Regions from separate parts of the Homo sapiens genome. Here region 2 is linked to region 1. The links come from fine-mapping of genetic effects on gene expression. A gene starts in region 1. The other region holds a variant in brackets. All regions are shown on one strand. Distances are between the middles of the regions.

Region 1 (15,172 bases):
CACAGGAAGAACTGAAGTAGCAAAAGGGAGGCTGCTAAACTTAACCCATTCACTTCTGAGAGCAGTAGGGGCATAAGTCTGCTTTAATCAGAACCTTTAAGGAAAGGAGGAGAGGGATGGAGAAGTCAAAGTGAACAGGAGCTTTAATTTGTGCTCCTATTCCTAGCCTACTCCAACCCTCTTCCTGAGTGGCAGCAGCAAGAGAAGTTCTGGATGTTGTCGAAGATTCTAGAATTCACTTGCACTAGCAAGAGTAACCAGCAACCTGTTAGTCTCTCTGCTTTTGCCCTTGCCCCTCACACTGCTGCCAGTATGAGGAATTTATAGTTTTTAAAACTGTAGTTTTACATATAACATGAGGTTAGGCAACTATTGTTTTAAAAACTATAATTTATAGTTATAATTTAAAACTATAAAGCGAGTCCTGTCACTCCTCTTCTCAGAATCCTCCAATGGCTTCTGACCTCCATCAGGGTAAAACCCTACATCTTTACCATGGCCTAGGTCCTAGAGCATCCCACATGGTCTGCATGCCCTTTCTCCTGACCTCTGTAGTCTCATCTCACTCTGGTTATACTGGTCTCCTTACTCTTCCCTAAAATATCAAGCACACTCATGCCCCTGGACCTCAACACTTGCTATTTCTTTTACCCAAAACACCTTTCCCCCAGATTTCCACGTAGTTCCACTCCCACAACTCCTTCACATTTCAGCTCCAATCTTCCCTGTTGAATGAGGTTTAAATATGGAACACCACATTTATGTTGTAAGCTCTTTACCCCCACCTGCATCACTGATATCCCTCTTGGCTTCATTTTTCTCAATAGCACTCATAACCACCTGGCATTTATTCATTTATTTATTTTGTTTTGTTTTTAACCTAACACTTTTCCAGGCTGTTTACATTTGGCCCAGGTATAGGATATATCTCTTTACATCAGAATGTAGCCATGGTGAGCTCAAACACCCTACTCAGGTTAATGTTTATTAGGGAGAGTGAGGGCCCCTGCAGGGGCCTCAAAGTGTAAGAGATTATGAGAAGAAACTTGATCAGGGTTGCTATAAAAATGTTATCATTGAGCTCAGTTCTGCACAAACAAGAATGTGTTAGGGAGCAATTGGTATATTGTCGACTGGTTTGGAAACAGGCAGCAAGAAGCCCCTTTGATAAACACTCCTCTCTGACAGGTACAAGGATGCAGAGATGACAGCTGACACTATATGCCAGGAACTGTTCTAGGTGCTTTTAAATACAGGTACTATTCTTACCTTCATTTTATGGGTGATGAAACTGAAGCACGGAGAGGTTAGGCAACTTCTCCATGGCCACACAGCTTGTGAGTGGTAGCATTCAAACCCATGTACTCTGGCTCCAGAAGTCATGCTCCTAACCACTATGCTATACTTCTATGCCTCAGAAATGAAGAAATCCCAGTTCCCAACCCCCTGGGAATGACAGTCCAATGGAGGAGACAGAAAAGTAGACAGTTACAGTACAGGGTGATAAATTCACTGCCAGGTGCTACACATAGGCTATCTGATTTAATCCTCATGACAACACCGCAAAGTGGATACAGATAAAGTAACTGAGGTACAGAGAGGTTAAATGGCTTGCCTACAGCCACATAACTACCCATTTGTCCTAGACAGATATTGTCCTAGGCACTGGGTACACATTGATGAAAAATATAAGCAACTGAAAGAGGGATGATAAGCAATAATTACAATACATGAGTACATTATACAGTATGTTAGAAGGTAAAATAAGTGCTGTGCAAAAAAGAGAAGTGGGGTAAGGGGGAGTAAGGGTGGACCAGGTTGCAATTTTAAAGGAGGTTAGTCATGGAAAGTTTCACTAAGGTTGCATTTCAGCAAAGGGACATTGACTTCTACACTGAGGGCAATGGGGAGACACGGCCGGGTTGTGAGTAGAGGAGGGTGGTGATCAGAATTATCTTTTAGGCTGATCTTTCTGATCACTGTAGATAAAACAAACTCTAGCAGGATAAGGGTAGAAGGAGGGTGGCCTGTTAACCGGGGGTGAGAAATGGTGGCGGCTTGGGCTATGATGGTACCACTGGAGAGGGTGAAAAATGGCTGGATTCATTGTGAGGGTAACGTTTGTGGGAACTGCTGATGAATTTTGGATCTGTGGGCTTTGAGAAGGAAAAATTTGGAACACCAAGTTTTTTGGAATAAAGTTGACTAACTGGGATGGGGATGACTGCATGAGTAGCTTAGGGGCGGGGCACACTGTTAAAGGGCTCCTCAGGCACTGCAGGCATAGAAGCTCCTTTCTTTCCCAGTGCTTCTCTTATAGCGATTACAATGTTTTAAAAATGTGTCTTCCAGACAAATACAGTACAATCCAACATGTTTGAGGTTCTACAGTTAACAGATTGTATAATTAATAATCTGGGTGGGAATGTTAATCAGGAATGAAATACAATTTAAAAATTAACAAAGTAATGAGTCAGAGGCTATATTGATAGAAGCACTTTTTAAGGAATAGCATTCCCTGGCCCAAGGGCTTAGTTGATTGAAAATTTTATCTATTATTGCTAAATTTTAAATCAAAATATGGCCGGGCACGGTGGCTCACACCTGTAATCCCAGCACTTTGGGAGGCTGAGGCGGGCAGATCACGAGGTCAGGAGATCTAGACCATCCTAGCTAACAAGATGAAACTCCTCCTCTACTAAAAATACAAAAAATTAGCCGGGCATGGTGGCACGTGCCTGTAGTCCCAGCTACTTGGGAGGCTGAGGCAGGAGAATCGCTTGAACCCGGGAGGTGGAGCTTGCAGTGAGCCGAGATCGCGCCACTGCACTCCAGCCTGGGCAACAAGAGCGAGACTCTGTCTCAAAAATAAAATAAATAAATAAATAAATAAATAATCAAAATAGACCCCATTACCAAATTTTCATGTTTTCAAGGATTCTCTAAAACCTACAATATTATCAATTACATATTCACAAATAATTACTGAATACAATATGGTATGTGGTAAAGTACAAAGGAGTACTGTGGCCATTTGTGATAAATAGAAATCAAATTGGAAATCTTCATAGATAACGTATTTTTTCTTTTTTTTTTGGAGACGCAGTCTCACTCTGTCGCCCAGGCTGGAGTGCAGTGTCGCGATCTCGGCTCACTGCAAGCTCCGCCTCCCGGGTTCACGCCATTCTCCTGCCTCAGCCTCCCGAGTAGCTGGGACTACAGGCGGCCGCCACCATGCCCGGCTAATTTTTTGTATTTTTAGTAGAGACGGGGTTTCACCATGTTAGCCAGGATGGCCTCGATCTCCTGACCGCGTGATCCGCCCGCCTCGGCCTCCGAAACTGCTGAAATTACAGGCGTGAGCCACCGCGCCCGGCCAGATAAGGTATATTTTTATTCCTTTTATTTTTACTCAACTCCTATGGTGCCACAAAATCCTATATTAAGCAGTATAATTGAAAAGAAAAAGAAAACAATAGCACAATGATTATAAAGAAAATAGCCTGAGTTAACTTCATTTGTGTCACTCCTAAAGCAGTGGATCAGATGTCAATGTTTATTATCATTCACTAATTACATTTATGAATAATTTTTAAAAGTAAAGGAAAAGACTGGCTGTTTTAACTAACATAATAGAAACTGTTGCTGGATTTTCTGTTGAAGGTATATTTTGAAGTGAGTTTTATTAAGTATAACTCGCATGTAAAATTCAAAAGAAAAATTAAATACATAAATAAAATGTGTCTTCCTCCACTAAAAGAGTAGGACACATCGCAGAAGCCGATAAATATTTGTTCAATGTTTACATGAACAAACACGGTCACTCAGCCGTCTTTATTTTCAGTGAGTCATAGGTAAAATATTCTTCACCAGGCGAGGATTGAGTCGCAGTCGCGTCAGGAACTCGCCTCCAGGTACTGAGCGAGCGAGCCCCGACGGCCGCGGTGGGTGGAGGGGGGAAAGTGGGGGAGAGTGGGGCGGGAGTAGAGGGAGAGCGAGGGAGGGAGCCTCACCCCCGGGACGCTTTCTGCGCACGCGCATCTCGGTGCATCTGTTGGGCGGGACCGCGGGGCCTGTGACACCGCACGCTGAGCTCTGTGATGTAGCCGCTTGCGGAGACTGCAAGCAGCCGCGGCGCGCCCGGCCCTCCCTCTTCCGCTGCCGCCGTGGGAATGGAAACATCTGCCCCACGTGCCGGAAGCCAAGTGGTGGCGACAACTGCGCGCCACTCCGCGGCCTACCGCGCAGATCCTCTACGTGTGTCCTCGCGAGACAAGCTCACCGAAATGGCCGCGTCCAGTCAAGGTAAGGGCGGGCGCGCGCGCGGCCGGCGCCGCGGGGAGCCGCCTTCCTGGGCTCCGGAAGGGGAAGGGCTCCGCGCCCGCCAGTCGCGACCGAGCTCCCCGGGGAGTCCAAGCGGCGCGGGGACGGGGAGGGCGCTCGGGGATCGCCCCTGGCTCAGCCGCTCCCAGGGTCCGGCCAAGGTCACGCGCGTGTCTGGGGCCTAACCACCCTGGGGTGTCGTCTCCAGTGGAGCTCACCCAGCCTTCCGGCGCCGCCCCCGGCGCAGAAGCCCGAAGACATTCTGTCCCCGTTCTCGGAAGCGGTCTGGCTTCTTTGTCCCTTTGGACGTTCATCTCAAATGCCTCGTGGCGTCATTCTGTGTACAAGGCACCTCCCCAACTGCTTTATTGTTGGTTTTGAAAAACTAGCACATATGGGATGGTACTTAGGAATAGCCTTCTGTTTAGTCGGCATAGTCAAAGATTCCGTGTAATTCGCAGTGGAGCACGTCTTTAAGTTATGCGTCTTACCCTATTTTGAATGTTTAGGTTGTATTTAATTTAGTACTGACTCACGGGATCCCATTGCTAAACAGAGCCATCATTGAAAACTCAATCATATAAACGTAAAATTACGTAAATTATGTTAAAAACAAAGGCAGTGAAAATACTAAAAACTCATCACTTTTATTATTTACCATGTTTTATTGTTACTTTACTTTTGAGGTTATTTATACATCTATTGTATCTTTGTGGAGGAGATACTATACTATGGTGCTCTACTGTGCGTCTCTTCCCATCTCTGGGTTCAGTAGTTTCACAATTCAGTAATGTCATGCTCACGATGAATGAATACGCAATGGAAATTGGCTACACTACAAATCAGCCCTTGCCTAAAGCCGACTGTTAAGCATTTCACCAGCACGCCGCTAAATTTTAGATGACTCTGGGAAGGTGGAATGTGCAATGTGATAATTATGTATTTTCCTGCAGAGCAGACTGCTCTTATAGACTTTTATAAGAGCAGACTGCTCTTATAGACTTTTATAAGAGCAGACTGCTCTTATAGGTTGATCAGGTATTTGCACCTAGGAAATTGTTGTGAGAAATTTTGAGGTTAAGATGAGTTTCAATTGTTATCACAGTGATGATCACATAATAACTGTGATCATTGATTTTGTGGGCTCATAAACGAAGCTATTGGCTGACTTTTGTCTGTCATAGTGCTTAGCAGTGTTTGACCAATGACTGACCAAATATCTCGCATTTAATCTACCTTCCCCCCTACTCCCTTTTTTAGGGACTAGATCTGTCATTCAGGCTACAGCACAGTGGCACAATCATAGCTCACTGCAGCCCCAGTGGAGCCACCTGTTGATCTAAGGGGCTTGGTCAAATTACGTTAAAACTGTAATGTTTTGTTGTTACATTAGAAAAATAAATTATTTAACTACTTGAGAGGCCATGGAGTACCCAGGTACTCAGACATCCATATTTTGTTCTGCTAAATGGGCGTCTGTGATGTATCCTGAATGAATTCTTGAATTATATTTTGTGTATGGTTTAAGGTAGAGGTTGAGAGTAGTTTTTTTTGAAACACAAATATATAGTAGTTCTAACATCATTTGTTGTTTCCTTCATTGAGTTACCTTGGTGCTAAGTTATTAAAAATCAAATGACTATATGTGTGGATCTATTTCTGGATTCTGGATTCTCTTCCATTGCTATATTTGGGTATCCTTGGGTCAGTTTGACAGTGTTGAATGTCATTGCTTTATAAGCCTTGAAATTAAGATAGTTGTATATTATACTGTAGCTTTATAATGAGCCTTGAAATTCCTTGAACCCTCCTCTTTCCCTTGCCCGCCTCCGCCCCCAGGATTATTGTGGCAGTTTGTATTTTCCTGATTGCAGCAATATTTTCCATTCCTTATGGTCTTTTTCCTAGTGACTTTGACACTCCTCCCACCCAGGGGTGGGATCTATATTCCCTCTTCATGAATCTGGATGGGAGTTTGTGACTGACTGCCTGTTCCTACAGAATGCAGTGGAAGTTAACACTGCATTTGCTCTCTCCCTTTCTTGGGACTTTCACCTCCTGAACTCAGCTCCTATGCTGTAAGGAAGCCTAGACTGACTCACATAGAGTAGCAGCCTATCTATCTGTGTGAGTGTAGAGTCTTCAGACCCAGCCTGTAAGTCTTCTGGCTAAAGCCTCAGACATGAAACAAAGACAAACCACAGTGCTGTGGCTGAATTCCTGATCCACAAAATCTGAGAGCATAATATATGATTGTTTTGCTTCATGAAGTTTTGGAGTAATTTGTAGTACAGCCGAAGTAACTGGAACACTGCTGGGTTTTTTTGTATCTTCATATGAATTTTAGAACCAGTTTGTCAATTACATAAAAACCTACTTTTTTGCCGGGCGTGGTGGCTCACTCCTGTAATCCCAGCACTTTGGGAGGCTGAGGCAGGCGGATCACCTGAGGTCGGGAGTTTGAGATCAGCCTGACCAACATGGAGAAACCCTGTCTCTACTAAAAATACAAAAAATTAGCCAGGCGTGGTGGTGCATGCCTGTAATCCCAGCTACTTGGGAGGCTGAGGCAGGAGAATCACTTGAACCTGGGAGGAGGAGGTTGTGGTGAGCCGAGATTGTCATTGCACTCCAGCCTGGGCAAAAAGAGCAAAACTCTATCTCAAAAAAAAAAAAAAAAAGAAAAAAGAAAAAACCTACTTTTTAATTGAGATTGTATTGAATATATAGATCAATATATGGAGAGAATGAACATCTTAAAAATATTGAGTCTTGCAAAACATAAACAGTATATCACTGTTATTTTAGGTCATCTTCAATTTCTTGGCAGTGTTTTGTAGTTTGCAGTGTTTTCTAGTTTACAGTGAACAGGTCTTGTGCATCTTTCATTGAATTTACTACAACATAATTTTTGCAATTAAAATTATTTTGTTTTCCAATTCATCATTTCTAATACACAAAAATTCAAATGACTTTTTAATATTGGTCTTATAATGTGTGACCTTGCTTCTGGTACCTTTTTGTAGATTTTTCTGGGTTTTCTATATACACCGTTATATTATCTGCCAATGAAGACAGAATTATTGTTGTACCTCCTTTCTAATCTCTTTGACTTTTATTTCTTTTCTTTTGTTGCACTGGCTAGGAACTCCAGTACAGTGCTGGGCGAGGTGGCTCACACTTGTAATCCCAGCACTTTGGGAGGCTAAGGAGGGAGGATCACTTGGGGCCAGGAGTTCCAGACCAGCCTAGGCAACAAAGTGAGACCTCCTGTCTACAAAAAAAAAAAAAAAAAAAAAAAAATCAGTTGGTCATAGTGGTGCACAGCTGTAGTCCAGCTACTGGGGAGGCTGAGGTGGGAGGATTGCTTGAGCCCAGAAGTTTGAAGTTGCAGTAATCTGTGATAGTGCCACTGCACTCCAATGTGGGTGATAGAGTGAGACCCTGTCTCAAAACAAAACAAAAAACAGTTGAATAGATTTTAGGGAAAGAAAAGTGTTCCATATTTCACCATTAAGTATGATGTTAGTTGTATATTTTTCATAGATGTCCTATATCAGATTGAAGAAATCCCTTTCTATTCCTATTTTCTACTTTTTTTTTTTTTTTTTTTGAGATGGAGTTTCGCTCTTGTTGCCCAGGAAAATGGGCAGTGGTCTGATCTCGGCTCACTGCAACCTCCGCCTCCCAGGTTCAAGCAATTCTCCCATCTCAGCCTCCTGAGTAGCTGGGATTACAGGCGCCTGCCACTATGCCCGGCTAATTTTTGGTATTTTTAGTAGAGACGGGGTTTTACCATGTTGGCCAGGCTGGTCTCGAACTCCTGACCTCAGGTGATCCACCCGCCTCGGCCTCCCAAAGTGCTTGGATTATAGGCATGAGCCACCACGCCCAGCCCCTATTTTCTACTTTTTATTCTGATTTTTTTCTTTGATTTTAAAGTATAAAATTTCTGTAATTATTATTTTTTTACAGTAAGTATTCATTTAGATTTATCCACCTATTTGCCCATTCCAGTGTCTCATTCCTTTCTGCATTTCCATATTTCCATGTGGCATCATTTCTTGTCGGCCTGAATAACTTTTGTGTACCTCTTTGAATATTACTTCTATCCCATTCTTTCTAATCTTCTGGAACTCCAATTACATATATGTTTAATCTTTTGAGCAGTTTTTGATCATTGTTATTTGCTTACTTCAGCATCTTGATCATCACTGGTTCTGTTTCTGTTTCTGTTTCTTTTTCTTTTTTCTTTTTGGGACTGAGTCTCGCTGTGTCACCCATGCTGGAGTGCAGTGGTGCGATCCTTGGCTCACTGCAACCTTCGCTACCCGCGTTCAAGTGATTTTCCTGTCCCAGCCTCCCGAGTAGCTGGGACTACAGGCACATGCCACCACGCCCAGCTAATTTTTGTATTTTTAGTAGAAACAGGGTTTCACCATGTTGGCCAGGCTGGTCTTGAACTCCAGACTTCAAGTGATCCGTCCCCCAGGCTTTCCAAAGTGCTGGGATACAGGCGTGAGCCACCGTGCCTGGCCTGCTTCTATTTCTTTTATTTAAACAAATTTTGTTTCCTTTATATGGCTTTGCCTTTGCATGGGTAGTAGTCATTTTCTATTGTTTGTTACATTATGTGTGAAAAGATTGTACACACTCCATGCCAGATGAAGTTGATCATTTGAGGTCAATTTTACAGTAAACAGCTTTGAATAGTACATTGCTGACATTTCATATCAGACATTTCTTAGTGCGGTGTGTTTCCAGGGAAACAGGGCTGGGTATAGTAGGGGAGCCTGACATTATCTTCCCACAGAGAAAGGGATTGACATTTTGTTAAGTCTTTCTCCATGCTTGGGCAAATCATTTAACTTTGGAACCTTCATTTCATTTTTTTTTTTTTTCTGAGACGGAGTTTCACTCTTGTTGCCCAGGCTGGAGTGAAGTGGCGCGATCTCGGCTCACTGCCACCTCCACCTCCCCGGTTCCAGTGATTCTCCTGCCTCAGCCTCCCAAGTAGCTGTGATTACAGGCGCATGCCACCATGCCCAGCTAATTTTTGTAGTTTTAGTAGAGACGAGGTTTCACCATGTTGGCCAGGCTGGCCTCAAACTCCTGACCTCAGGTGATCTGCCCACCTTGGCCTCCCAAGGTGTTGGGATTACAGGCGTGAGCCACCACGCCTGGTGCCTTCTTTTTTTTTTTTTTTTTTTTTTTGAGATGGAGTCTCATTCTTGTTGCGCAGGCTAGAGTGCAGTGGTGCGATCTTGGCTCACCGCAACCTCTGCCCCTCAGGTTCAAGTGATTCTCCTCCCGAGTAGCTAGGATTACAGGCATGTGCCACCACCCCCGGCTAATTTTGTATTTTTAGTAGAGATGGGGTTTTTCCATGCTGGTCAGGTTGGTCTTGAACTCCCGACCTCAGGTGATCCACCTGCCTCCGGCCTCCCAAAGTGCTGGGATTACAGGTGTGAGCCACCATGCCTGGCCTTCATTTCTTAATTATAAAATTGAGTTAATAAGTAGTACCTACCTTATTCTGTGGATTAATTAGATGTACATGATTAATGTTTAGCACATTGCCTGGTAAATAGTAAGAGCTCAATTAAACATTACCCTCTCATCTTCATTATCACTGGAGATCCACGTAGTACTTAGAAAATTTGTGGATTACTGAATAGCATTGAGCTACTTCTGAAGAGAAGGGGCAAATTTGTTTCATTTGGGATGCATTACTGGCAGTTTTTTATAGGTCTTTTTGGATTTATTTATTTATTTGAGATGGAGTCTTGCTCTGTTGCCCAGGCTGGAGTGCAGCGGCACTATCTCGGCTCACTGCAACCTTTGCTTCCTGGGTTCAAGCAATTCTTTTGCCTTAGCCTCCTGAGTAGCTGGGATTACAGGTGCCTGCCACCACGCCTGGCTAATTTTTGTATTTGTAGTAGAGATGGGGTTTTGCCATTTTGGCCAGACTGGTTTCGATCTCCTGACCTCAGGTGATTCGCCCACCTCGGCCTCCCAAAGTGCTGGGATTACAGGCGTGAGCCACCGCGCCCAGCCTTTTTTGTTATTTTTAAATTTGAGAGGACAAACTAGAGGACTAATTTGAGATTTTCTAGGTTTTTCCCTGTAATATAGACATTAGTATTTGCTGATTTTAGTCTGATTTTCCAAAATTGCAACTTAGAATAAATTTACTATTTAAAATAGAATATTTGGAGGTTTCTTATTACATTTATGTCTGTTTCTTTAAATATCTCAATCTAGTTAGGTATAAAAGTAAATATTTTCTTATTTAACGTATTACTTCTTGTAGGAAACTTTGAGGGAAATTTTGAGTCACTGGACCTTGCGGAATTTGCTAAGAAGCAGCCATGGTGGCGTAAGCTGTTCGGGCAGGAATCTGGACCTTCAGCAGAAAAGTATAGCGTGGCAACCCAGCTGTTCATTGGAGGTGTCACTGGATGGTAAGTGATGTGAAAGATGTCCACTGTCTTTTGTGCATGATTTAGTATTGCAGTTATAGGTACCATCATCTCCTTTAACCAGTGAAAACACATTGGCTTCTGTGAAATTGGTCACTTAATGTGGAGCATGTATCTAAACATCATCTTAAAGTACCATTTAATGGTTACACATAATGATTGTTTCCTATATGCCAGGTTCTGTTTGAAGTATTTACATAGATATCTCATTTCCTTCTCACAACTCTGGAATTAGTACTGTTATTTTCTATCCTCATTTTATAGAAACTGAGGCTCAGAAAGGTTAGTTTGCCCAAGGCCACATAGCTGGTAACTGGTAGAATAAGGAGCTAACTACTTATTAGCTATGTCAGATGATAACTTAATGTGACACAGCTTATGGTTTCATTTGTAATAAATTCAAAAAGTAATAGCAAATTTCATAGGTGAATATTGAATCCATTAATCTCATAGACTCTTTACATTTGAAAAATTTTATAGCACCATATAGCAAATATAGAACAGCACATTTAACAGGTGTACATTTTAGCAAATACTTGGAGTGAACACCTATGTAACAACTGCTAAGGTTAAAAAAAACGTGGCTAGCGCCCTAGAAACTCGAGAGGTTATTAAGCAGTTATTTCATTGCTTTTCTTTGTAGTTTTAACACCAGTTATGTCACTAAATAACATACTGTGGTTTACCTGCTTTCCACCTTAAAGTAAATGCAATCAGTATGTATTCTTTTGAGTCTTGCTTTTTTCGCTCAACCTGATGTTTCATATATTCAACTACATTGTGTATAGTTGTAGTTTCTTCACTTTCACTTGTATTTTGAGTTCCATTATGTGAATATACCACAGTATATCCAGTTGATGACTGATATTGGAGTTGTTTCCATTTTTGGCTAATACTATGCTTATATGAGTATTAGATTTCCCAGTGTATATGTGCATACATTTCTGTAGGGTCTGTACCTAGAAATTGCTAGGTAATGGGTATAGGTATCTTCAGCTTCACTAAATAATGTCAAACCACCTTCCAAAACTGTTTTTAACAGTTTACAGTCCCAGCAAGGACCAAATGAACCTGTTGTTCTACATGGTGGCACTTGATTTTGCCAGGCTATTAAATTTTTAAAAAATTAGTTAATTTTTCCTTAGCGAGGTAATCAAGTTAAATCCAGACTATAAAAATTTTACCAGTCTGGTAGTTAGGTAGTAGTATTTCATGGTGGCTTCATTTACATTTCCCTGAGTAGGAGTGACATTGATCGACTTTTACGTATGTTTGTTGACCATTTGGATCTCCTCTTTCAGTTCCACTCTAGTTTTTTTCCTCTGAAGTTGTCATTCTTTCCCTTGTTAAGCTGTAAGAGTTCTTTATATATTCTGAATATTCTCAGTCCTTTGTTAGTTGTGTGTATTATAGATATTTTCACTCATTCTGTGGTTATCTTTTCGTTTTATGGTATCTTTTGATGAACTGAAGATCTTATTTTTAATATAGTCAATTTTATCAATCTTAACCTTAATGGTTAGTGATTTTTGTGGCTTATTTAAGTAATCTTTGCCTACCCCATGTTTCAGAACTTTTATTATTTGACCTTTCACATTTAGATTTATTATCCACCTGGAATTGTTATTGTGCTCAGTATGTGGTAGATTCCTTCTTTTCTTCCCCATGTGGAATACCCATTTGTCCCAACTTAATTTATTGTGAAAGCTATCCCTTTCCCCGCTGCTTTATGTGAGTGTGTGTGCGCATGCATATGTGTGTGTCTGCTATCTTGTTCTTTAGGAACATCTTGGCTATTTTCTTTATCTCTTAGTTTTTAAATTTAATAAATAGGTATATTATAAGTTGCACATATTTAAAGTATAAAATTTGATACATTTTTACATATGTACATGCCCATAAAACCATCACCACAGTCAAGATAATGAACATACCTATCACTTCAAAAGCTGCTTTGTACCTCTTTGTAATTCCACGCTCTTTCCTTCATGCCATCCTCCCGCCACTGATCTGCTTTCTATTACTATAGATTATGTTTTCTAGATTCTTTTTAGAAGTGGAATTACATAGTATATATTCTTTTTTGTCTGGCTTCTCTTATTCACCATAATAATATATTTTTTTGTTTTGAGACGGAGTCTTGCTCTGTTGCCCAGACTGGAGTGCAGTGGCACGATCTTGGCTCACCGCCTCCTGGGTTCAAGCAGTTCTCCTGCATCAGCCTTCACCATAATAATTTTGAGATAATCTGTGCTTTTCTGTTTATCAACAGTTCATTCCTTTTTATTGCTAAGTAGTACTCCATTGTATGGATGTACCACAATCTGTTTCTCCATCCACCTTTGATGGACATTTGAGTTTTTTTTTCACTTTTTAGCTGTTACAGATAAAACTTCAAGTTTGTATACAAGTGTACAAGTCTTTGTATGAACATATGCTTTCATTTCTTTTGGGTAAATATCTAGGAATAGTATGGCTGAGTCACGTAGTAAGTGAATGTTCTAAATTTACAAGTACCTGCCAGTTTTTAAAGTGCCTGTACCATCTTACATCTCCACCAGCAATGTGTGAGGGTTCCAGTTCCTCTGCATCCTTACTAACACTTGGTATTATCTTTTTGATTACGAACATCTTAGTGGGTATGAAGTTGTATCTCATTGTGGTTTGAATTTGCGTTTCTCTAATGACTAATGATGTTGAGCATTTTCACGGGCTTATTTTTTGCCATTCATATATCTTTGATGACTTATTTGTTCAAATCTTTTTCCACATATTTTTATTGGGTTGTTGGTTTTCTTTCACTGCTGAATCGTGAGAGTTCTTTAAATATTCTGGATAGAAGTCTTAGATATGTGATTTGCAAATATATTACTTCTCTGTAGCTTTTCATTATCTGAACTGTACCTTTCAAAGAGCAGAAGTTCTTAATCTTGAAGTGCAGCTCTTTTGTAGCTCCAGCTTTTGGTGTCATGTCTGAGAATATTTGCCTAATCCAGGGTCACCAAGATTTTCTCTCGCTTTTTCTAGATTGTATATAGGTTCGGATTTTATATTTAGTTCTGTGATCCATTTTGATTTACTTTTTGTATATAGTATAAGGTAGGAATCCAAGTTTTTTTTGCGTATGGGTATCTAGTTGTCCCCACATTTGTAAAAAAAAGACTGTCTTTTTCTCCACTGAATTGTCTTTACACCTATGTTGAAAATCAGTTGACTATATGTTTTTGAGCTCTTTGTACTGCCAAATTGATCTAGGTGCCATTATCATGCTGTTTTGATTACTGTAACTTAGGTAATGCAAGTCTTGAAATTTTGTTTTTCATCAAAGCTATTTTGAGTATTCTAGGTATTTAGCATTTCCATCTGAATTTTATCTTGTTTTTATACACTCCTCCATATGAATTTTAGAATTAGGTTGCTGCCAGTTTCTGCCAGACACCCGATGAGATTTTGACTGGGATTGCATTGATCCATAAACATTGGTGTATCTCTCCAATTTGTTTAGGTTTTCTTTAATTTCTCTCAGCAATGCTTTGTAGATCTTACACATCTTATATCAGATTTATTCCTAAGTATTTCATATTTTTGATACCATTATAAATGGTATTACTTTCAAAATTTCAAGTTGCCATTGTTCATTGCTTGTATAGTATATAGAAATGCAATAGTTTTCTTTGTATATTGATCTTGTATATTGTAGTCTTGCTAAAAGCCACTTACTAGTTGCAGAGTTCAGGGGTCCCCAAGACCACTGTCATGTTTGATAGTTCTCTAGGAGAATTCACAGAACTCAGAGCTGTTCCACTCAGGGTTATTTTTTTATTTTTTATTTTTTTAACAGAAAATGATACAGATTAACTCAGCCAAGGGAAGAGGCACATGGAATAGGGTATTGTGGAGTCTTTATATTTATATTTATTTATTTTTTTTGAGACATAGTCTCGCTCTCTCACCCAGGCTAGAGTGCAGTGGTGTGATCTTGGCTTATTGCAACCTCTGCCTCCCAGGTTCAAGCAATTCTCTCGCCTCAGCCTCCCAAGTAGCTAGGACTACAGGCGTGAACCATCACACCGGGCTAATTTTTGTATTTTTAGTAGAGTCAGGGTTTCACCATATTGTCCAGGCTGGTCTCAAACTCCTGACCTCAAATGATCTGCCTGCCTCAGCCTTCCAAAGTGCTGGGATTATAGGCGTGAGCCACCACACCCAGCTGAGTCTTTACATGTAAAGTAGGTTTCTTGTAGGTTCCATATAGGTGGTTGTTAATTTTTTAGAATCCAATTTGACAGTCTCTTCCTTTAAATTAGGGTGGTTAGACTATTTACATTTAAGTTTATTTTTAAAATTCTTTTAATTGACTAGTAAAA
Region 2 (16,807 bases), 29 kb after region 1:
TTACCCATTTTTAAAGTGAACTTTCTTACTGATCTCTATAAGAAGTTCACTTTTTTGAGTATCAATGTTTTGTTTATGATACACATCACAAGTATTTTCTCTAGTCTGTTTGGGTGACTGGTGGTGCCATTAGCTAAAATAGGGCCTAGAGGAAGAGCAACAATGCAGGAGGAGACTCTAGCAAGGTGAAGACTTTTAGTTTCAGATATTTTGAGATTGCCAAAAATTTGGTAGAGAGAAGTGATATTGATAGGGCATTGATTGATTGGCTACAGTCATTCTCTTCATTCCTAGGATGATATTAATCCATCATCAAAATCTACATGCTTGAATCAGATTTACACTGAGTTTTAGTGTTTGTGCCTGCTGTTTTTATCAAGGGAAATAGGTATATGCTGTAGGTGTCTTTGGATGTGGTTCTCTTAATATCCGTTTATATGAACTTGCTCATGAGAAATCTCTGTGGGGCCAGATGCTAGATTTCTTCCTGTTAAGCAACAGTAATAACTGCCTGAATGCTTTGCTCTGTTCACATTGTCAGGAAACTGACACTCATGGGCACATTGTCAGAGTCATTCTCTGGAAACATTTGTATTGGCTGTAAGGTCCATCTCTTCACCCTACATCTTGACCCCCCACCTTGATTTTCATCTTATGTAACTCTTTGTAAAAGGGTTGTAAGAGTATAAATAATTTAAAAGAATTGCCAGTAGTTATTTCTAGTGCCAGGCATATGGCTTCGCATATAGGGGGGATGCTGAGTAGATGTCATCATGATACAAAGAATCAAATGGCAGATGTCTCCAAAAATGGAAAGTCAGAGGGTTTCGAGAGTCTACTTCAGGATTTATCCTGACTAAAAGAAATAACAAATCTGTTTCTCATTTCTTGTTGTCATTATTGTTGATACTGTAGCTTGCAAACCATACTGGGTACATCAAAGTTGACTGGCAACGAGTGGAGAAGGACATGAAGAAAGCCAAAGAGCAGCTGAAGATCCGTAAGAGCAATCAGATACCTACTGAGGTCAGGAGCAAAGCTGAGGAGGTGAGACTTGCATTGTTCACGTGTAGTGTGTGAACAGTGCAGACAAAAACAGGGCTTAACCCTATTGTACCATATCTCAGTGATGGACAGGGCTTAAGCATTACAAAGAACTTAGAGTAATGAGACAAAACTAACTTGGATTATCATCACTTCAGAACATTTTTAAAAGCTGGATAATTGTTTGGTGACCTTTGTCTGTGCACATTTGTGGAGTGATTATCCCTTTAACCAGTTCTTGTAGGAATGTGGGGCAGCATAGTAGGTGGGAAGGATATATGGCCAGTATAATTATTTTGAGTCCCATTTTGTCGCTATACACGCATATCTCTGAAACATTCATACTCTGCTTGTTCTGCATATAACTAGTGGAAATGTCACAAGTATTCAACTCCACTGTATATCATCAAAATAGCCATAGATGATATGTTAAATAAGTGGATGTGGCTGTGTTGCAATAAAACTTTATTTAAAAACAGGTTCAGATTGGATTTGGCCCATGGGCTGTAGTTTGCTAACCCCTGATCTTGTTCATTAAAGCCAAGTTAGATTATGACCTGGCACTGCAGGGACAGGAGAAGTCCTTCCTTTTTAAAAGGATATTTTTTGCTGCTGCTTTATTACCTTTAGAAATATGTCAGATGTTGCAAATAAATAAGTACACTGAACTGGGGAGAAATAAACAAGGATCAGGGTGTCAAGAAGATAGCTGGTACTTTCTGTAGCCTGGAGTGATGAGAGATTCTCCCATTAGCTCACTCTAGCCTCACAGGGAAAACAGACAGATTGAGTGCAGGGGAGGAGAAATACCCTGTGTGCGCCTCAGGCTTCTCATGTTGTGAGTGGCTCTTCGTGCTGGTGATTGGCAAGTGGCTGGTCAAAGCTGGTGCCTTTACCCAGAGTGGGAAGGTGGCAGAGATGGGTATCTACAGGAGCCCAGAGCCCAGATAGTTTCTCTTTCCTTTCTTCCTTCTGTCTCTCCTCAAAGTTAGGAAAGTTACATTTTTTATTTCATGAAAACTTTATTATTCAAATGTTTATAAAAATAATGCATGGCTGGGCACAGTGACTCACCACAGTGAGTAAAAAAAAATTTTGTAAGAGAGGTCTCACTCTGTTGCCCAGGCTGGAGTGCAGTGGCACAGTCATGGCTCACTGTTGCCTCAACCAAGCGATCCTCTGACCTCAGCCTTCTGAGTAGCTGGGTCTATAGGTGTGTACCACCACACCCGGTGAAGTTTTAAATTTTTTGGAGAGACAGGGTCTCCCTGTGTTGTCCTGGCTGGTCTCAAACTTCTGGGCTCAAGCAGTATTCCCACCTCGGCCTCCCAAAGTGCTGGCATTACAGGTGTGAGCCATGGCACCTTGCTGAAAACTTTAAAAATAATACTGGAAGTGTATATAATAAAAAGCATAAAGTTAATATTTGATTAGAACCAACTGTTGACTCACAGAGGGAGTTTGTTATAAAGTAACCAGATAATTTGGAATTGAGTTCACTGTCACAGGCCCTGGGGATGTAGTGGCTGGTTTTCCTACTCATAGAGCCGGTGGTCTGATTTGAGAAACAGGATGAAGATTTAGTTCAGTATTTACCAACAAGATGACTTCAGTGAGAACAGTTTGGTGGGGTGGTGGAGTTGAAAGCCAAATTAGCAAGTTGAAGAAAGAGTAGTAAAAATAATAAACGAAACCAATTTTCTCAGGAAGTTGTATGATTTTTTTTCTTCACCCCAATGGCAGATGACAAAAGTGCTTCATTTAAGGAAATGTAGAGGTCCAGGAGAGATGGAGGAGGAGTGGAAATGAGGCAGGAAGACATAGGCATCGTTGGAGTAAGGGCTTACTGGAGGGTTAGAAGACAGTGGTCCTAGGAGGATGGGGTTGGTAGTGTGAAAAATGTTAGGGGAATGTCAGGGTGTGAGTAGCTTAGGTGGTTTGGGGATGGAAGTCACCGTACTTGAGTTCAAGAAATGATCAGGCCAGGATGTTGGATGTCTTGTTCATATGAACACTTTCTAAGGTGGTGATCACACTTAGGAGAAAGAGGAAGTCTGAGCCACTTATCAAAATTGTCTCTGAAATTGGAAGGGTGGGGAGTGGTCAGGAGATTGGTAGAGCACAGACTAAGGAGCCATAAAGAGTGTCTGAATGTATGCACTGAGTCTCAGATGACCGGGAGCTATTCCAGGAGGGTAGAGGGGAGGTGGGAAGCTTTGGGAACTTAAGGAAATAAGAACGTCACCTGTTAATCATCTTAGATGTGGTGAAGTGTGAGAATGAGAATTTATAGCATCTACCTGGGAGCAGGTTTCAGGGGGGAATGCATGGATGGAGAGATTTAGGGGAGAGACTTCAGGAAATGAGAAGCCTCTATTGGAGGGTAGATGCCAAAGAGGATGGAAGGAGCAAAATTGGAAACAGAATTGCCTCTGTAACCAGTTTATTTAGTGCAGCTTTACTCTTTCGCCATAACTGTCCCCATGAACTCTCCTTCTTTGTCCTTGATTCAAAGAGCCATTGTCTCTACCTCCTGATGTGCATCCTCCTTCCCATCAGGCTCCCTCTAGTCTTATTCTCCCCACACCAGCCAGTAGTCATTTTCATATGTAAGTCTATTTAATTATTATTAAATAGACTATTAGTGTAAGTCCATTGCCCTTTGGGTAAAGTGCAAATTACGTAACCGATGAGGGGATTGACATTGTTAAGACTGGCATAGGTATAATAGAGATGATTCTTAATATTATTAACATCCTTAGCAAAACAACCCATTGTACTATCTTCTGTTTTCAGGTGGTGTCATTTGTGAAGAAGAATGTTCTAGTAACTGGGGGATTTTTCGGAGGCTTTCTGCTTGGCATGGCATCCTAAGGAAGATGACCTCATGTTCATTGTTCCTGGTTTTTTCCAGCCAGCAGCCTCTACACTCCATCATAGGACATCGAGTCCCTCCTCCTCTTCTCCCATGCCTTCTTCCCTGCCATGGCAAATCTGAGTGGCTTCTCTAAGCATCTGCTGGTACAAGTCAATGTGGCACCATGAGCTTCATGGTGGCAGAAGAGACAATAGTCCTTAGCTCTCCTCCCAGTACACCCCCTACTTGGCCAGTCTGTAGGCCAACAAGAAGGTTCCTTTACCCCCATGCAAGACACTTATGAGAACACATTACAAGATGGCTGACCGTGGAGGATGAGTGGATCCTGAAAGGTTGTCCCAAACTGTTGATTTGGAAAAGAAATAAGCACATAGATAACCTTATTGTGTGCTGCATGGAAAGGAACTGAATACATTTGCCTTTAAGCATGAAAGATTTTGGTATCTTGGTGTCTACTTTCTTTTTTAGTTGGTTTTACATTACAGAAAGCTATTTAAATGTGTTATAATTATGCCGACAAAATTGGCAGCATAATTACTGTAATTGAAAAATCTGATATTGTCCAGGAATGCTTTCTACCGTACAGGATAATGTATCTCATGGCTGTTTCCAAAGGGTTTATTTATTGTAAAACAAGTGATTTAGGTGGGAAAGGGAAGATTTTGGATTTTTATTTTGTAGAAAAGGTTTTAAGCTTTGAAATGTGAATGAAATATCCTTATCAAAACATTAGGGGTGGCCATAACTCCTCTGTGCCACTTCTACTATTTTTTTTTTTAATCTAGTTAGTATGAAATACAACATTTAAACCGGAATTTTAAAGAAGTAGCTTTCCAGGGATTCAGAATTAAGAAAGATAGTGATAGGACATGAGAAATAAATTTCCATCAAGTGTAATCTACCGTCTCATGATGACCACAACCCTGAGAATTATTCTTTAAAAGCTTACACACACACACACACACGGGCACACACGCACACACAGAATCTTACCACATTTTGCTGTAGTGGCATGTTACCATGTCTACAGTCCCTACTAGAATATCAGTCAGCTTTCAGAGGGCAAGACTTCTGTCTTCACCATTATACTCACAGGGCCTAGCACTTAATAGGTGCTGAGTATTTGAATAATGACTTTATAGAAAGAAAACTCACTATTAAAGGTTAGTTTTACTCAGAATTGTTAATCTTGGAGATGATCTCTTGTGAAATATGAGTGTGTTTCTAAGGCCATACATTTAAAAATGTTTGCATTTTAACCCGTCTTGAGAATGATGTATTGAATTTGAAAATCAAAACTACCAGTGGATGTGTGGAACTTTACAGAAACCACCTATTTGCGTTTTTCTCCTTACATTTAAGGAAACATAAGCCATTTTGCTTGCAATATGTATGAATCATCTCAAAACCATAATGGTATGAGCCTCTTTGCTGCATATTTTGCTATAAGAACTTATTTTTTTTCACTTTTTATTATGGACGCTTTCAGGAATATATAAAAGTAGAGAATATAGTACAATAATCCCCCTGTGTATCTATCACTCACTCACAACAATCATCAAATTATAGCTCTGCTGGTTTTTACCAGTTATTGTGAAACAAATATCAAAATGTCATTTTATCATATTTCAGTATGTATCTCTAAAAGGTAAGAATTATTTCTAAAAATCATAAATACCTCATCATATCAGACATTAACAGTAATTACATAATATCCAAAATCTGATCAGTGTTCAAAATTTCCTCAAGTGTTTTATATTTAGTTTGTTTGAATCAAAATTCATGCAAGGTTCACATCGTATTTGCATGATTTGGATAAGTCTCTTAACCTTATAGATCCTCCTCT[AT/A]TTTTTTTTTTTTGCTTGCTATATATTTATATCTCTATATATATTGATATAGACATATGTAGTGACACTGAGTCATCTGTTTCCTGCTTCCCCACACTCTGCCTCTCCTGACATCTGGGTCTCTGGGTTATGCCATATATGGTGATAGTGGCTGCAGCCACTTTACCTGTGTGACTTACCCACAGCAATGGGATGGTAACAGCAAAGCTAACCAAAGTGCTCTGTGCCCCTTTGGGTTGCATGTGGGGAGACTGGCCACCCAATGCCTCTCCAGTGGGGTAGGGGTTGTCTTTTGGTGCATCTGTTTTTCCTGTGATTATTGGTGAGGGCAGCAAAGATTAGCAGGTGGTTGTAAACTACCTTGAGTAGGTTGTAATAAATAGTCTGGCCTCAGACTGTATTCTGATTGTCTGAATTAAGATCTGTAGGTAGGTCCCTCCTGAAGTTTTTTCCCAGCTGGCTGCCTCTACGACTGTGAGGGTCATGGTTGAGGTCAGTATTGCAGGTTGGCCTCATCCTGCTAGTATGAGAACGGCTGTGAGTTCTGCCCACGGTGTGAGGCCACTGTGACCACTTGGGATTGTGCAGAGCTGGCATGGAGGTTGAACACGCACAGCTGCACACCTTGTTTTCAGTTTAGCTGAACCATCGGTGAAGGAGGCTCAGGCATTTGGGGTTACCTGTGAATCAAGGCCCTATTGTGCCAGCAGTTTTGTTTCAGGTGGTGAAGTGGGAGTTAAGGTTTCCCCCAAAAGAACAGCTGCCACTCCTCCATGCAAAACCGAGATGATTCAAGGACCAGGCAGCTCCACCTTTCAGTGCACTACTTTCATTTGACTGGAGAGGCCTGCTTAGCTAGGCACGTATTTTCTCCAGTAGCAGAGTCCAATGACGCTCTGGACTTCCTAATTAGTGGTGGTGGGGCGGAAGTTTTTCCTTGGGAAGAGCGTTGTCGCTGTATATGGTCCGCAGAAACTTGACTTGGAATGTGTTCGGGGTTTCATCGCCCCCTTGTGGCGGCGACGTGGTAACACCGCACTCAAGGCTTCCAACTTGTCAACCAATAGGATGGCATCTACGTAGTGAAGGCTTCCCTTCCCTTGTCCTGCAGCGTGCTGGACAGTGTCCCGGCTCAGGGACCCCTTCTGTCCCCTTCCTGGCTACTATGGGTCGGCCCTGCGTCCTCACCACTTTGAGCCACCCTTTGACCCAGCGTCTCTCCCGCAATGGGACCTGGTGGGATGGGGACTTGGAGCATGCTACAGGAGAGGTAGAACTTTTGAGTCTCTTCTTCCCAAGGTTCTCCCCAGAGTCGGAGAGCAGAGACGGATCCAGGGGCACTTTCTGGCCGCTGCCTGCTCGGGCTCAACAGATGGAGTCCAATGTTTCAGTCTCCCCCAAGAATGTGTATCCTCATTGCTGACACGGGAGCTGGGTGCGGGGAGAGATGTGGTGGTGGGGACCCTTGCCTGAGCAGCCCATTGTCATGAGTGTTATTGCCATTGTGATAATATGTTAGCATGACTCTCCTCCCAAATGGCCGCTTGTTTGTTGCAATCTCCCGCCACTCAGCCTCCAGACATTCATTAACAGGACAGTGGGGTTCTTGACTCCCCTACCACTGGGGTGACAGTCCTTGCTACTGGATCTGGGCAGTTACTGTCTCATGGATGCTGGCAGAAGACGATTCAAGTTGGCGGACTAGATTCTACAAGGAATGATCTCTTGCATAATTCTAGCCAACATGCTCTTGGGGTGGGTGCTTCTGGTTTTGGAAAGCAAAGTTACTGTGTAGTTAACAACTATTGTGGTAAGAATAGTCTCTCCATCATTCTTTTGTTTCACGGTTGTCAGAAAGATGGGCATAACTAATGGTTGGGCTCTTATTTGGAACCTCTACTTTTGTACAGTTTGGGAATCTCTGCTTGAAAAGATGGTATACTGATGGATTTGAAATTTCTGAGTATCATCAATGTTTCATGATGATCTCAATTTCTTCTCAGAGGGAAGCTCACAGCCAGTTTTGGACCCCAGAGAAAAATGTGGCTGCTGCCCTCTACTCCCTCTACCAAATTATCAGCTTCATTTCTTTGTCATGAAATCTAGTATGATTTCTCAGAAATCAGGCCCAGAACTAAAATACATTTTCTGCCCAATTTTCTAAGAGGTCACACTAACATCTGAGTAATTGGGCAGAAAACCTATTTTAGTTCTGAGCCTGATTTTTCTAGAAGTCATATGGTATAGCTTATATTTCCGATGCTTGCATTCTTTTTAAGGGGTCATGAATCTTAATACTTTTTTTTTTAAAAGAAAAGTGTCGCACTTTTTCACATTTTTATAAAGCTTTAAAGTCAGTTTACTGACTTTTCAAAAGTGTCTACCTTTTTAAATTTTAAAATGGTAAGAAATGACATTCCTGAGAGCAGTGGCTTTCATCCTTGCTTGCACTTGGGAATCACCTGTGAAATTTTAAAAACTACTAATGCCTGGCTCTCATCCTAGAGATTCTGATTTCACTGGTCTGGAGTGCTGTTCAGGCATCCTGAGGTTTTAAAGTGTCTTAGCTTTTTCTAATGAGCAGCAGAGACTGAGAACCACTGAAGTACACAGTTGGAAGCTGGTGCTGAAAAAATTAAGAGTTTTGCTGTTAACTCCTTAAGAGGGCTTTAAAGCCTTTTATATTAAGTGCCATACAACTTCAGATGCCTTCTGAATACTGAACACAAGTGTAATATTATAGTTCATTAAATGTCTTAGGAATCGTGTGGAGTGAATGCAAGGAAAGGAGTGACAAGATATCACCCCACAAATGACTTACCCATTACGAAGGGAAAACTACCTTTCTAGCTAAAAGGTCTGTCAGTCACTAACCAAGTGATTAAACTTAGCATCACTAATAGCCAACTTAACAAAGTTTTTTTTTTTTTTTGGTTTCTAAAATGGGAGATCATAGTTTTCACCTTCCTAGAGTTCTTTGCTTAAGACTGAGATTCAGTGTTACTCTTGGTCCCTAACAATAAGAAGCACTCAGTAAATGTTAAGCCTTCTATGATGGCTATTTTATTTTTTTGTATGTCATAATAATACCTAAGAATAAGAAGAGTTAAATTAATGTCTTCAAATGGATTTGTTGACTTAAACTGACACAATCCTTTAAAAGAAGGAACTGATTTGAACCTTTCAAAACTGAAAGAAAGTCGTATACTGATACAGTTTGGAGCCACCGAATGTCATGTTGAACCGTATTCCCTAATGGAGGTGGATCCTGGTGAGAGGTGATTGGATCGTGGGGGCCATCCCCTCTTGGTACTTCACTCATGATAGTGAGTTCTCATGAGATCTGGCACTTCACCCCTCACTCTCTCTTGCTCCTGCTTTGGCCATGTGGAGTGCTCACTCCCCTTTTGCTTTCTGCCATGGCTGTAAGTTTCCTGAGGCGTCCCCAGAAGCCCATCAGATACCAGTGCCATGCTTCCTGTACAGCCCATGGAACTGTGAGCCAACTAAACCTCTTTTATTTATAAATTACCGAGTCTCAGGCACTTTTTATAGCAATGCAACAATGGACTAATACATATACTTTAGCATAAAAACATTTAAAAGAGTCTGAAACTGGAGTAGTTAACTCAGTAAAAATAACTTGGCAATAAAACACAGAAAAACAATCTATTTGATCATGTAGTGATTCCTAATGTAAATCCTAGTACAACTGTCAACTGATAATTTTAAATGTAATTTAGATTTGTAGATGGTGTAACATTAAAGTTGTATGATGTTTTATTGTGTTATTATTAACACAAGACGTCATTTAAATTTCATGGGGATTTAGCTCTGTCACTCTGGTTTGTGGACCAAACGTCTCTAAGGCAGCATTTCTTTAAGTCGCTCTGGAGAGCATTCACACACAGAGATGCTGTCTGCAAAACAGGTTCACTTAGGTTTTTTGAAAGCTCTGAAGTCTGACAGGAAATTAACCTGTGTACTTGTATGCAACCTAGCATTCCCCAAACTTACCTGACCAGAGAAGCCTTTTTTTTTTCTTCCGGTTACAGCAATTCCTAGAAACACTTTGAGTAATGCTGCTTTAAAGAAAACAGTTGGTCTCAAATAATCATGGTATTTTAACATCAGGGACCTAGCAGAAATTGTTCCTGCTTTTAGTCATCTTTTTCTTTTTTAGAGGACAGCCTTTGGTGGTTCAAGCATCCATTTGAGGAAAGCAAATGGCCTGTTGCATGCTGCCTCCTCCTACTTCATAAAGTGACTGACAGCTGTCAACAGGCTTCATTCAGCAGCTTTGTATTAATGTTGTCTGGATCCTCTGTAACAGGTTTTTATTATCAGGATATAAAGAATAGATAAACCAACTAAGTTTGAATTATCTTGCTGCCTACCTGACTTCCAATGAAAATTTTTTCTTCAGTTCCTTCATGATAAATTAAGGATCATTAAGCATTACAAGAATCATTTCTATGCCTTTCCTACCTGGTTAGTCGCTGCAGTGGGGATGCAAAAGCAGAAAGAAATGCTCTTACTGGCATCTGGAAAGACACTTTTTGCTCTGCATTTTTGGAAGTACAAAAGGTAATGAGTTAGTTTAAAGGAAACTTTGAATTAGTTTAGCATGTAATCTATAAAAGGTATCAAAATTGGCTCACGCCTGTAATCCCAGCACTTTGGGAGGCCGAGGCGGGCAGATCACGAGGTCAGGAGTTCAAGACCAGCCTGACCAACATGGTGAAACCCCGTCTACTAAGAACACAAAAATTAGCCAGGCGTGGTGGTGCATGCCTATAATCCCAGCTACTTGGGAGGCTGAGGCAGAATTGCTTGAACCCGGCAGGCAGAGGTTGCGGTGGGCCGAGATCGCACCATTGCACTGTAGCCTGGATGACAGAGTGAGACTCCATCTCAAAAAAAAAAAAAAAAAAAAAAAAAAGGGCGTCAAAATTGTGATGCTGGAAGTGAGTCCTTTCACCTAACATACCTCATATGACTTAAATTTGATGAATGGCACTAGTGGCTTGAACTTCAAGAGAATTCATTAATACCCTATATCTAATAGTCTTAAAATACATTTAGTACAAAACCCAAATTTTTCTCTTAAACAGGTTTATTTTAGCAGCTCAGTATATTACATTCTACATATTTGTCTTTTAATGTGTTTATATTTCTGCCTGTTCTGCATAGATGGCATATTCATTAACTTTTGTAGCTGACTTTTTCATTTGCTATTTGCTGCTACCTGGCCTGAAGAGTCAGGAGGATAAAAAAAATTCATTTGGTGGAAACATGGAGCAGCACTTCAGAAGAACTTTACTTTGATGCAGACTTCCGTGTTAGGTTTTCTTCCTCTTCTTTTTCAAATCCTGAACAGACGACAGATCTTCCCTTGGGATACTGAGCACAACACTTACGCAGTTCTTGGATGACAGCCTGACACTTTGATTCCATGTAGCTGTTGGCTGAAAAACATACAGGCAGACTCTAGTCATGATCTCATAGGACTAAGGTACAGGGAGGTTTAGATCAGTGCTTCCCACCCCTTTTCACTTTCAGTACCTATGGAACTGGAAGAAAGAAGATATACCAAAGTCCACTGAATTCTTTCTAATTTAGAGACCTGTCGACAGGTTCGTTAGGGAAAGTATGATTTACAAAGTGGTTGAAAGCTATTTTAATATATAATTTCCTTTAAGGTTAATAGCATGTATGCACCTTTTTCTAGGACATTGGTTTTTAACATCATTTTTATTACTGGTCACTAATTTGATGAATTAGGAAAATGCACATACACCACACATTATTTTGCATACAGTTTAAGCTGATTGTTGGACCTCCCCTACTAAGGCTGTGCATCAGGAATTGGCAAACTGCAGCCTTAGGGTCAAATTCAGCCGGTTTTTACAGCTGGGAGCTAAAAATGGATTTTAATTTTTAAAGGGTTGTAAACACACAACACATACACAATATATACAACAAAGGCCTTTGGCCTCCAAAGCCTAAAATATTACTTGTTTGGCCTTTTTCATAAAACATTTGCAGATCCCTACTATACATAAACACTAAGTTAAGGAGGACCTGACCTAAAGACTCTAGGTCAGCTGCAGTTAATGAGTCCCCCAGTACTAAAATGGAGTACATGGTAGTTAGCTCAGGATAGGAAAGACAATTCTGATTAGAAAGGCAGTATAGCAAGGTGGGTAACAGTCCAGATTTGGAGCTAGACCAAGGGCGGGGTTGGCGGGGGGTGTTCAAATTCCCACCATACCTCTTACTAGCTATGTGACCCTAGTCAAATTACATAACTTGTGTGTCTGTTTTCCCCTTTATGAAATGGGGGTCATAGTAGCATCTACCTCATGGATGAAAGGCTTAATACGTATAAAGTCCTTATAACGGTGCTTGTCATCTTTTAGTCTTTCCAGTTCTTAATCCTCCCACACTGCCAAGGGGGTGTCACCAGCTCTTTTTAACTTATTTTTTTCCCTTAGCTATGGGTTATTTCAAACAAGGTAAGGTTTTATTTGGGAGAAGGAATTAAATGCAAAAAACTTTTTCCTTTTCCTTAAAGTTGGAGGGAAGAAGTTTGACTAAAATGGCATTATTATACATCCAGATTTTAATCTAAAAGATTTTATAAAATATTGCTAACATCAAAAAATGAAAAGTCCAAGAATGAAAGCTAAAAGTCCAAGGAGATACACAAACAAAGGATTTCTTTGGTGGTGAATCTTTGGGGGAACTCTGAACATTTTTCCTTCATACCTTTCTATATTTTCATGACCTTCCATCTCCATCTATTACTTTACTAGTGAGGAAAACTTATTAAAATTTTTTCAAATTCAGATAGCCTTATAGCTTTTTCTATTTGCTCTTCTGGCAACAGTCATTCACTGATTAGAAAACTAAAATCCTCTAACATTTGGTCAAACTTAGCAGCTGGACAAATGGACAAATCACCTCAAATATGCTTTAGTCGAGATTCACTTCTGCCTTTAAGAGTTAGTTGATGACTTTGGCAGCCTGAATTCCAATTGTTATTTCAACCGCACCTCTTCCAGATTGCTTTTAAAAAGTGAATTGTCAGCTGCAGTGAAGTATAACCAACCAATTTAAAACTAGCCTTTTAGTAAAAACAAACAACAACAACAAAAAACCCTTTTTTTCCTAGCCCTAGCCCTAGGAAGTCTGAATTGTTCTAGGTAAGTGTTTAAAGATCTCCAGGTGATGCTAATCACCTGGAGTGAAAACCCCTAGCTTTGATCACATTACTTTTTATTTTCTGCATCTTTGATGATACAATGAAGAGAATCTTCAGGATAATTACATATACGTTACATTCTTAAAAAAGAGTTAATACAGATAAAAGAATAATTGGTCTCTTATAGTTAGTTCACAGTGGAAAAATATTTTTAAAGCATTTTACAATATACTACCTTGTAAACATTTCTGTATCTCACAGGCTTGCTTCTGGCACGGATCCTTCTGCGGCATATCCAGAAAACTAAAACAAGAAAAATGATTTTTATTTTTCTTTTTTCCATAAAGACTTTAAAGCCCCTCTACGTGGAATTTTCTTCTGAGACAAGCAGTATATGCCCTTACAATTGCTGGAAAATAATTACACTAAAAATACTCTTCCCAAACATAGGATGAATCAACTGTATTTTTATAATATCCATTTCATTAGGCTTGGAAGATATAAATAGCTTTACATGGAAAAAAAACCTTGAATTCAATCAACTCTTTTTGAATACTGTAAACCAACGTTAGGCTAGAGGAGCCGACGGCGCAGCCTGGCTCTATCATTCGCAGAAGAAACCCTTGATAAATGATTAAACTCCTTGAGCTTTTTTTATTACTCATATATAAAATGGGAATCATACCTACCTCAAAGCATTGACAGGAGGATTAAATGTGATAAAGTATATAAAGTACATACAATAGTGCCTGGAAAGGACTCCAATACATGGTAGCTATTATTCCCAAGACTTTTTTTTTTAAAGTAAAACCTTACTTTTAATGTATATAAACTGTTATAACTACTTTAACTCAGGAAATTCTTTACAAGTAGTAAATGTTTTCCTAGGAATCAGCAATATTTGGTGTTATTACTTCCTGAGAAAGGTGCCAGTTAAGCAGCTAAAATGGTTTTTCTTGAAGTTCTTATAGAAACCAGCTTATTTAAAATATCTGTAATCAGAGAATGAATTCAAGAGCCCACAATTTTGATCAGCAACTTCCAGTAATTTGAAGACACGATTTCAGATAGAAAAAAAGGCCCACAAGCCTTTGTAGCTAATTTCATCAATGCATATCTCTTTTCAGAGCCCTCTAAATACTCAGCAGATCCAAATTAGGTCAGTACTGGGATGGGAAACACTGGAGCAAAACCTAGGATATTTACAGGATGGGAGAAGGAAAGGCAGGTGAATTGCTGCAGGGCAAATAAGCGACAAATAGATGTTGATGCTGCTAGGAGCTGCTCTCTTCTCTCTAAATCAGTACCAAGTCCTTGGTGATCAGGGCATCTGTTCTGTAGAAGGTGCTGACTTTTGTGGGATTCATCAGATCCCAGGTCCAGCCGATGATGTCCATTAAGGGTTCTATGGCAATTTCCAAAGGAGTCAATTTCAAGTTACGGATCCTGACTAAGTGCTTTTGTTGACTTGCTTTCTGCCTACGTAACCTCTCTCTGCAGTTTCACTTGCAGTATTCTTCATGACCCTTGCTAAACTTCTGTTTCTTGAGCAGTTTTTCAACCCACTCCCTCCCCCCAGGCCCAAGGGTGGGTGCACTGCAGTAGTGGATGAAGTGATTGCCAAATACTGAACAGAACAAAGGAGCATATCTTCGTAGAATCCCAGCACCTGGAAAAAAAAATCATTAAAATCACCACAACTGAATAGAGCCAAAACAAAGAGGGGGAGGACAGAGGAGAAATAGAAATACATACCAGGTTAGTCATCAGGCAAAAGCTTAAGCAACAGCTCCTGTACTCCCCTGACCTGTCAGAAAAAGAAAAGTTTATGGAGTACTCTGTTACGAGAGTCCCAGTACAATGGAAAATAATTAAGCAACATGTGTACCATTAAATGATGCTGTATCTGCCACAAGCGAGAGTTGTTATCCATGTAGCGCTCCTCCGGGTAGAGTTGCCACATGAGAGGTAGCTGGGAGGTAAGAAGGTGACTTGGCCTAGCTGCGTCACCTAAGGGAACCTGAATTTGCTGGACTCGTGCCCTTAGGAAACTCGTCTCCTAATGGAAAGGAATGATCAAAAATAAAACCAAAGACTTCAGAATATTGAGACTGGAATAGAAACCAAGTTACTTGAAAGCAAAATCAAAGAAATAAGCAAAATGTAAACAGTTACCTCTTCCACGACGGCCACCCACGTGCGCTGGTATTCGTCGCGGTAGATACCCTCTTGGTGAACCCAGAGGTGATCGGGTGGAGCCCCCACATCCTCTCCTGCCATTCTGGGCTTTGGGTTCCAATTCTAGCCCTGCTTTTCTCCACCTAAGCCTGCAGCACCCGCGCACAGGACACAGGTGTGACTTTTTGGGTTTGAATGAACTCACCAGTAAGCAAGGTGATCTGGTACTAGCAACCACTAACCAGAACCAAACCTCATATGTCTATTTGCACAACCTAAATAGAACCAAGGACATCTGAAGCTTTCTGCAAGACAACTAAAGTGACACTCAGGCAGAGCCTCAGGTAGTGCTGCTGACTGCAAAGCGCTCAAGAATTTGGCTAGGTGAGGAGTTCTGTGGAAATGTAGGACTAGCACTACAGGAAGCTGGGCAGTGGTCTCACACATACTGCATTCACAAGCAGTGTCTGGCAAAATGTAGTTAGCAATAGAATATGCAAAGAGCGTGCCTAAAGACACACTTATTTTGGCAGGAAGGCAGTATAACAGACACATGCATGTCATATTCCCCAGGTAAAAGCCACTTCCAAGCAGTTTCCATTTTAAAAGGTAAGATTCTGAAGGACATATATGCATGTCTTTCAGAGTTGAAATTAAAAGTTTGTTTTAAGGGCAAATGATCTATTTATCAGTTTACTAAGAAAGTTTACAAATAGCGGATGGGCATTTCTAGAAGGGGATTTTCTTGTTAGGAAAAGTAAGCTAGCTTCATGGAATTTCTGAGCTGCAAGAGACTTTGGGGATCATGCTGATTTGGAGCTGAGTGAGTGCAAATGAAAGTTATCCATCTAGGTCCTTGTTTTATTTTAATAATTCTGCAGGATGTTACAGGAGCCCATTTTTCCATAGAGGACTAGGTTTAAATTTTGACTTCCTAAGCCAGAAGACCAGAAGCACATTTGAGAGGTGTAAAGGAAGCATACCTCCCAAAGCATTTGAGTGGTAGGGCAAACTCTATAACGATCCTCTGCCCAAGCCCCAGATATCATTTCAGGACCTCACAATAACTTGATGTGCATTTTGCATGAGTCAATCTTCTAGACCTTACTCAGAGCATTATAGCGCAGTTGTACTGTATTTCTACCTTTGGCCAGAGTATAGATACGGCACTGGGGAGCTGCCCCTCAAAACAAAGACCTGCTATTCTCATTAGGTGGGAAAAGAAATGCAGCGTGGGAGGGTGGTTGTTAGAGTCCTCAAAGTGAGACTGTCGAGAGCAACCAGATGCTTCACCCATTATACCCTGAGTGCATCTGACTCTGAGCCTGGTGTAAGCTCCTGTCTTAGTTTTCATACATATGTGCTCTCTCATTTCAAACTCGTCTAAACTTTCTCTTTAACCAAATCCTGATTTCTCTCAATGGCAACACCACCATTCCTGATCCTGCAGACTCAAAACTTATGAATTATCTTGGATTTCTTCCTCTTATTCAGTTGCTACATCCTATATGTCACCAATTCCAGCAGGCACTACAACTACCACTGCAGTTGAGACCAACTTTCCCCAAATACCAGGCTCATTTCTAGCTCCATACCCTTGCTCTTGTTTTCCACTTGCCTAAAATGCCTCCCTGGGCCTCTCTGCCTATCTTA

Which allele goes with the higher level. Alleles are on the strand shown, and positions count from the first base shown. SD is a standard deviation of normalised expression in the study named.
In carriers of allele A in region 2, the expression in prefrontal cortex of the gene that starts at base 4,078 in region 1 tends to be lower than with AT alone (small effect, 0.12 SD a copy in CommonMind).

Evidence for each region. PIP is the estimated chance that this variant, and not a neighbour inherited with it, causes the effect. A credible set is the group of variants that fine-mapping cannot tell apart.
Region 2: its variant is the best candidate, but not a certain one, in a credible set for the expression of FUNDC2 in prefrontal cortex (CommonMind, PIP 0.60).

The regions. Positions count from the first base shown.
Region 1 is chrX:155,022,767-155,037,938 of GRCh38, forward strand. FUNDC2 (FUN14 domain containing 2) reads left to right here and starts at 4,078. Exons shown (of 5, transcript NM_023934.4): 1 at 4,078-4,305; 2 at 10,637-10,787. The coding sequence starts at 4,173. RefSeq lists silencers at 3,899-3,988, 4,259-4,578 and an enhancer at 4,756-5,659.
Region 2 is chrX:155,050,755-155,067,561 of GRCh38, forward strand. FUNDC2 (FUN14 domain containing 2) reads left to right here. Exons shown (of 5, transcript NM_023934.4): 4 at 916-1,047; 5 at 3,841-9,550. The coding sequence ends at 3,918. It overlaps CMC4 (C-X9-C motif containing 4), which reads right to left. Exons shown (of 3, transcript NM_001018024.3): 2 at 13,212-13,279; 3 at 10,868-11,237. The coding sequence starts at 13,269. The coding sequence ends at 11,089. It overlaps MTCP1 (mature T cell proliferation 1), which reads right to left. Exons shown (of 5, transcript NM_001018025.4): 2 at 15,152-15,303; 3 at 14,865-15,035; 4 at 14,732-14,783; 5 at 13,280-14,645. The coding sequence starts at 15,256. The coding sequence ends at 14,736. Among named protein-coding and RNA genes, the nearest start is that of CMC4, 12 kb to the right of the region's middle. RefSeq lists enhancers at 6,514-7,015, 6,680-6,974. The variant AT/A (reference allele first, on the strand shown) is at 5,769.